Linked DNA regions of Homo sapiens. The protein of the gene in region 1 interacts with the protein of each later gene in a biochemical or structural test. Each region holds a gene or a part of one and is shown on either strand. Other genes may lie near its edges.

The links.
Region 2: the proteins of UTP23 (region 1) and DDX52 form a complex in vitro, tested with the Homo sapiens proteins (one study listed by BioGRID).

What each region holds. Positions count from the first base shown.
Region 1 is NC_000008.11:116,769,366-116,772,526, reverse strand, and holds part of UTP23 (rRNA-processing protein UTP23 homolog), read right to left. Parts: intron 2,336-3,161; coding exon 2,161-2,335; intron 1,072-2,160; coding exon 685-1,071; 3' UTR 1-684. UniProt on the Homo sapiens protein: Involved in rRNA-processing and ribosome biogenesis.
Region 2 is NC_000017.11:37,633,306-37,637,136, reverse strand, and holds part of DDX52 (probable ATP-dependent RNA helicase DDX52), read left to right. Parts: intron 1-3,718; coding exon 3,719-3,831.

The DNA.
Region 1 (3,161 bases):
TATAAATGGGCAAAATTTCACTCTTTCTAGTAGGAAGTCAATAAATAATTGATGTATCAAAAAGTAGCGGTATAATCATACAATTTGGAAATATAAATTCTTCAACTACTAGAATTGAAAGAGGAAGTTTCTTCTGTCAATGTGAAAGAGGGACTGCCTCTTTTTTTGTCACAAGCCTTTTAGAACTGTAAGATTTTTTAAAACTGTTTGCATATAATGTTTGAAGGTGGGAATGGGACCAGAGAGGCGACAATTTTACCTGGAGAAACAACCTCCCGAAACCATTTAGTAAGTAAAGTGAATTCCATCACACCTACACCCATTCACTGTTTTTATTTTTTTTTTGAGACATGTTCTCACTCTGTTGCCCAGGCTGGAGTGAAGTGACACGAACTGGGCTCACTGCAATCTCTGCCTCCCAGGTTCAAGCGATTCTCATGCCTCAGCCTCCTGAGTAGCTGGAATTACAACTGTGCACCATCATGCCCAGCTAATTTTTGTATTTTAGTAGAGATGGGGTTTTGCCATGCTGGCTAGACTGGTCACTGTTTTTATTTTATAATTAATTTTAGCTAAAGCATATGGGTTCATTTACAAAAATAAGTTTGGTCTTTTATTATAAATACTTCTAGTTGTAAAAAATTCATTTTCACATTTGAATGTCCTTGAAAGTATCCAAAGGATTCATTCTCCTTCTGCATTCTGCTTCTCAGAAAGTACTTTTGGGTTAGATCTGTTCCGAATTCTTTTTCTTTTTCTTTTCTTTTCAGAAGCAGATGATTGTGTGTCCGGTGCCTTTTTCTTTTTCTTCAAACAACTAAGAGGATTGGGACCACTTATTTTCTTGCGCTTTTTTCTTCTACTCTGTTCAGTGTTTTTCACTAAACCCTGTTCCTCTTTGAGATGTTTGATACTTTCTTTCTCATGCACTGAGACAAGCTGACCTGACTCCACTGCTTTTACAAAGGCAATTGTTTTGGGAGAAGGTTTGTCCAAAACCATAGTGTTCTGAATAATAAACATGAGAGGAACTCCAGGCTTCTTTTTTACTTTCACAGACAAATTCTGATCCTATTTAAAAGAAAACAGAATTATTTAGTTCAAATGTCAATTAAGGTACCTTAAATAGGTTTTCAAGAACTGTATTAAAAATAAAAGAGATCACAGATTTTATTTTTCAAATGAGTAAGCCTCACTTATTCATTTGAGTAATGGGGGTATATTTCATGATAAAGGAAGAAAAACATAAAAACTGAGCACAGTGTTAGTAGCAGCTGTGTGAACCGGATTTATCGATACTCTAGAGCCACAAATTACAAACTAATGCAAAGGTAAATGTGTTAGGTGGGTTTCTCCTGTTTCCACTCTAAGATATTCTTTGGAAAGGGTCAAGAATGCTTAAAGAGGTTAAAGGAAAAGAAACTGGGTAGTAATTAGCTACTCAGATTCTAAATTCAGCTCTACCTCTGTGTAATTTTATAATTCTGATAATCAAATCTGTATGTATGTGAACTTAATATCACCCCCAAAAGTCTCTCTTCTCCTGCCTTCAAGAAGATGGGAATATTTTTCTTCAAAAGCCTGAAATATTTCATACTGTTGGTACAGTCTTAAGCAGTATGAACCATGACTTTGAGAAACAGTATGAAATACAGGAACATGAAAAAAATTAACAGAATACAGGCACTTTGCTCTACTTATCTTCCCTTCAAGAACCCTACAACAAATCATCACATCTCATGTCAACAATTTCTTGTTTTAAAAAAAGAAACTTCTGCCAGTGTCCAGCATGATGGCAAACACCTGTAATCCCAGGTACTCAGGAGCTGAGGTGGAAGGATCACTTTAGCCTAGGGGTTCGAGACCAGCCTAGGCAATATAGTGAGACCCTCAAGTCTCAAGAAACAAACAAAAAAAGCAAAACAAAGGAATCATTAAAAAAAACAAAACCCAACCTTCCACTACTAAAAAGAATATCAACATGCTTAAAGTTTTCCTCAAATTCTCAAATGACAATTGCTTTTACTGACTGCAAATTAACTTAGAAGCCTGTATTTTTAAAAGTCTAATCATTCTAACTTTTTTCTGATTATAAATAGCTCCATATGAAGTATAAATAGAAATGGTGAAAATTGCCTGTGGTTTTAAAAGTAGTATCACCTGTGTTGCCACAAAATAATGATGAGGATTTCCCTCTTCAACCATGGAAAGCAGACATTCTGATCCACTCACTGCATTCTTGAAATGAGGACAATTTCGAACTTGGCATTTTTGTGCAATCAGTTTTGCCCCATATAAGTCCTTTCCCAATGTTTCTAGCTCTTTTAACACACATCTGAAAAGAAAAATTATAGCAGATACATTTCACTTGTTTACATAAGGTGTAAAAAACAATAGTCGATTTTTTCTTAAAATAAAACTATGCTGTTACAATCTAAATTTGTCATCTGGTAACCATTTACTTTAAAAGATCACTTGAAAAATGCATTTACCAAGTAGGAAGAACAACAGTTAAAATTAACTGAGCACTTATTATGTTCCATGTAGTATGCAAATTGCTCTTTACATAAATTCTTGATTAATCTCAAAGTAACCCTATGAAGTTAGGTCGCTTACCTTGAAATTATCCTTATTTTAGAGCACCCCATTCTGAGATTTCAAGTAACATGCCAAAGTTCAAGTAACTAGCAAGTGGTACCGAGACTTGCAGTTTGACAACAGCTCCCTTGTCCCAACCATAGCGTAATAAGCTTCTGCTTCAAGTACAAATTGGTATACTTTCAAAACATTTTCAATTCAGAACAGTAAAACTTCTCACATCATCAAGTTGTTTTTAAAAAAACATTTAGTCATAAGAGTTCCTCAACCCTAGCCAGCATTTGCCAGATTCTTTCTTGCTTCATCTCCTTTATCATCTTTCTGTTTCAAGAAGATTTTGCTTGCTTTAGTCATTAGACTTGACCTCTATTTTGAGTACTGCCAGCCTGTGGATGTCCTGCTATCAACTCTTCAAATTCACCATGTCTAAGATCAAACCACTTTCCTGTATCCAAATTTATCCTCCAAGACTTGCTATCTCTTTGAAATTACTATTTTCCCAGACACCCTAGATAGAAATCAGAAATCACATTTGACCTTCCTGCCCTTCTTCACCCATACTC
Region 2 (3,831 bases), on another chromosome or scaffold:
AAAAATTAGCTGCACGTGGTAGCACATGTCTGTAGTCCCAGCTACTTGGGAGGCTGAGACAGGAGGATTGCTTTAGCCCAAGAGTGTGAGGTTACAGTGAGCTGTGATCATGCCTGTATACTCTAGCCTGGCTGACAGAACAAAACCCTATCTTGAAAAAAATATATATGTGGTGTAAGCCAAACCATATATATATATTTGGGATTACAAGCATGAGCTTGTAATTGGTTATATACACTCAGATGTCTGTGGTGTTGGCTATTGTTTCTGCTGTTAATCAACAGTCCTCTTCAATTAGGGCATGAACAAGATGAATTTTTTCCTTATAAATTGATGCGGGTGGTCTGCTGCTACAGACTTCCATCTTCAATATTATCTTGTTCCTTCTTAAAACAAGTTATCCATTTGTAAACAGGTGATTTCTTTGTCCCCATAAACTTTTCATAAAGCATCAGTGATTTCACTATTCTTCTACCGAAGCTTCACTGTAAATTTGGAGTTTGTTCTTGCTTCAGTTTTAAGCAGAATTCATGTTGCTGTTTTCAAACTGCTGTCTTATCCTTCTTAGTGTCTCAGACTAGATCTAGTTCACCCGTATTGTAACAAGTTGGTATGAGTTTATTTTGGTGCAAAAAATTTTGAAATTTTTGCATAGTTTCTTCATAATACGGATTTTCCATGAACTTTTTGAAGACCCCCTTATATATAGATCAGTGAAACAGAACAGCTAGTCCACAAACCCATGCATATATGGTCAATTAGTTCTCAACAGAGGTAATAAGGTAATTCAGCGGGGAAAAGAAAGTCTTTTCGACAAACGGACTGGATCCATGGGGAAAAAAGTGAACATCAAACCTAACTTTATATTGTAAGCAAAAATTAACTTCAAATGACTCAGACTGAAGTTTTAAAACTATAAAAGTTCCAGAAGAAAACAGGAAAAAAATCTTTGTGGCCTTGAGATATGTCAAGGTTCCTTAGCACAACAACAACAAAATTCTTTAAAAAGAAAAAATTGATATATTGGACTTATCGAAACTAAAAATTTTCATTCTTCAAAAGATAACATTAAGAAAATGAAAAGGCAAGCCACAGATGGGAAAATATTTGCAAAATGTATATCAAAGGACTTGTATCTACTCACTAAAGAAGATAATACACATGGTGATAAGCACATAAAAGATACTCAACATCAGTAGCCATCAGGCAAATTAAAACCACAATACAGTACTACTACATACCCATTAGAATGGCTAAAAATAAAAAAGAGTGACCATACCAAGTATGGGCAAGGATGTACAGAAACAAGCTCTCACAGTGTTGATGGTAAAATGGTACAACCACTTTGGAAAATAGTTTGGGACTTTTTTTTTAAGTTAAACATATATTTACCATATTACCCAGCTATTCCACTTGGAATATTTACCTAAGAGACAGGAAAATATACATCTTCAGGAAGACTTGTACACAAATTTTCATAGCAACATTGCTTATAGCCAAAAGCTGGAAATGACCCAAATGTCCCTCATCAGGTGAATGATGAACTGTACATCCATTACAATGGAATACTACCTAGTAATAAAACGGTAAGTTGTTGATACATGGTGCAACATAGGTGAATTTCAAAACAACTATCTTGAGTGAAAGAAGCCAGACAAAAATTAGTACATATGACATGATTCCGTTTATATAAAATTCCAGAAAAGGCAAACTAGTCTATAGTGGCAGAAATTAGATTGGTGGTTGCCTATGCATGGAGTGATGGATTATAAGGTGTCATGAGGAAATCTGGAGAAGTGATAGAAATAACCTTGAATGTGGTGATAGTTTTTTGGGTGTGTAGATATGTCAAAACTCAGCAAATTAGATACTTTAAATATATGCAGATTATTGTATATATTTATGCCTCAGTGAAGTTGAAAAAATTAAGAAATTAGAACTAGTCTTTGCTAGTTTTAGAACTAATTTAGAAATTAGAACTAGTCTTTGCTTTGTAGAACTAGTCTTTGCTTGTTAAACTTAAAATGTTTTTAGGTTAGGCCAGGCGCGGTGGCTCACACCTGTAATCCCAAAACTTTGGGAGGCTGAGGCGGGCGGATCACGAGGTCAGGAGTTTGAGACCAGCCTGGCCAACGTGGTGAAACCCCGTCTCTACTAAAAATACAAAAATTAGCTGGACATGGTGGCATGCCTCTGTAGTCCCAGCTACTCGGGAGGCTGATAATCACCTGGGAGACAGAGGTTGCAGTGAGCCAAGATCATGCCACTGCACTCCAGCCTGGGTGACAGAGCAAGACTCCATCTCAAAAAAAAAAAAAAATTTAGGTTAGTCTTACATATTTATTCTCCCATACAAACTGTTAAGTCAGCTGATCTAGTCACCAAAACAATTCTGCCATTACTTTTAATTGGCTAGTGTTCTTCATAGATTGAGGGAGAAAGGCTATCTTTATAATACTGAGTAGTTCAAAGTATTGTGTTATGTTCATTGCTATTTATTTATTTAGAGACAGAGTCTTGCTCTGTTGCCGAGGCTGGAGTGCAGTGGCACAATCTTGGCTCACTGCAACCCCCACCTCCTGGCTTCAGGTGATTCTCCTGCCTCAGCCTCCTGAGTAACTAGGATTACAGGCACCTGCCATCATGCCTGGCTAATTTGTGTATTTTTGTAGGGACAGGGTTTCATCATGTTGTCCAGGCTGGTCTTAAACTCCTGACCTCAGGTGATCCACCCACCTTGGCCTCCCAAAGTGCTGGGATTACAGGCATGAGCCACCGCACCTGGCCGTTCATTGCTATTTTAAGTGAGATCTTTCATTATATTTATTTTTTAGTTGTTGGTTGTTTACATATAGAGAACGTGGCTGCCTTATTGAAATTTCTCATTTGGCTGGGCACGGTGGCTCACGCCTGTAATCCCAGCACTGTGAGAGGCCGAGGCGGGCGGATCACTTGAGGTCAGGTGTTTGAGACCAGCCTGGCCAAGATGGTGAAACCTCGTCTCTACTAAAAATACAAAACAAAATTAGCCGGGCATGGTGGCGGATTCCTGTAATCCCAGCTACTTGGGAGGCTGAGGCAGAGAATTTCTTGAACCAGGGAGGCAGCAGTTGCAGTGAGCCGAGATCGCACCACTGCACTTCAGCCTGGGCGACAGAGCAAGACTCTGTCTCAAACAAAAAAAAAAAAAAAAAAAGGAAAGAAATTTATCATTGTTTAAGTTGCTTTTCAATTAATCCCCTGTTGTTTTCAAGTATACTAAGTACACTGCTGAAACAGCCAACAAAGGGAAGATAGTAAGCTTCAGAACTCTGATCATACCAACACAGAACTTGCCTTTTCATTTCCATTTTTATACATCCTATTACTTTCTCTTATCTAGTTGGATCAGCTGTACTTTTTCCTTTTTTAGTGTGAAGGTATGGCTTTCTTGCTACACATACATCCAAGATTAAAACCTTTTTTCTTTTTTTTTTTTTTTGAGACAAGGTTTTTCTCTGTTACCCAGGCTGGAATGCAGTGGCATGATCACAGCTGTCTGCAGCCTCAACCTCCCAGGCTCAAATGATCCTCCCCACTCAGCCTCCTAAGTAGCTGGGACTACAGGCTTGCACCACCACCCACCCTTGACTAATTTTTAATTTTTTTTTGAAGAGACGGGTCCTCACTATGTTGCCTAGACTGTTAAAATCTTTTACTTTTTAAAAATATATTTTAGAAATTGCTTCCCAAGAAGAAGGTGCTACTATACAGTGGATGTCATCTGTAGAAGCAAAGATTGAAGACAAAAAAGTTCAGAGAGAAAGTAAACTAACTTCCGGAAAGTTGGAG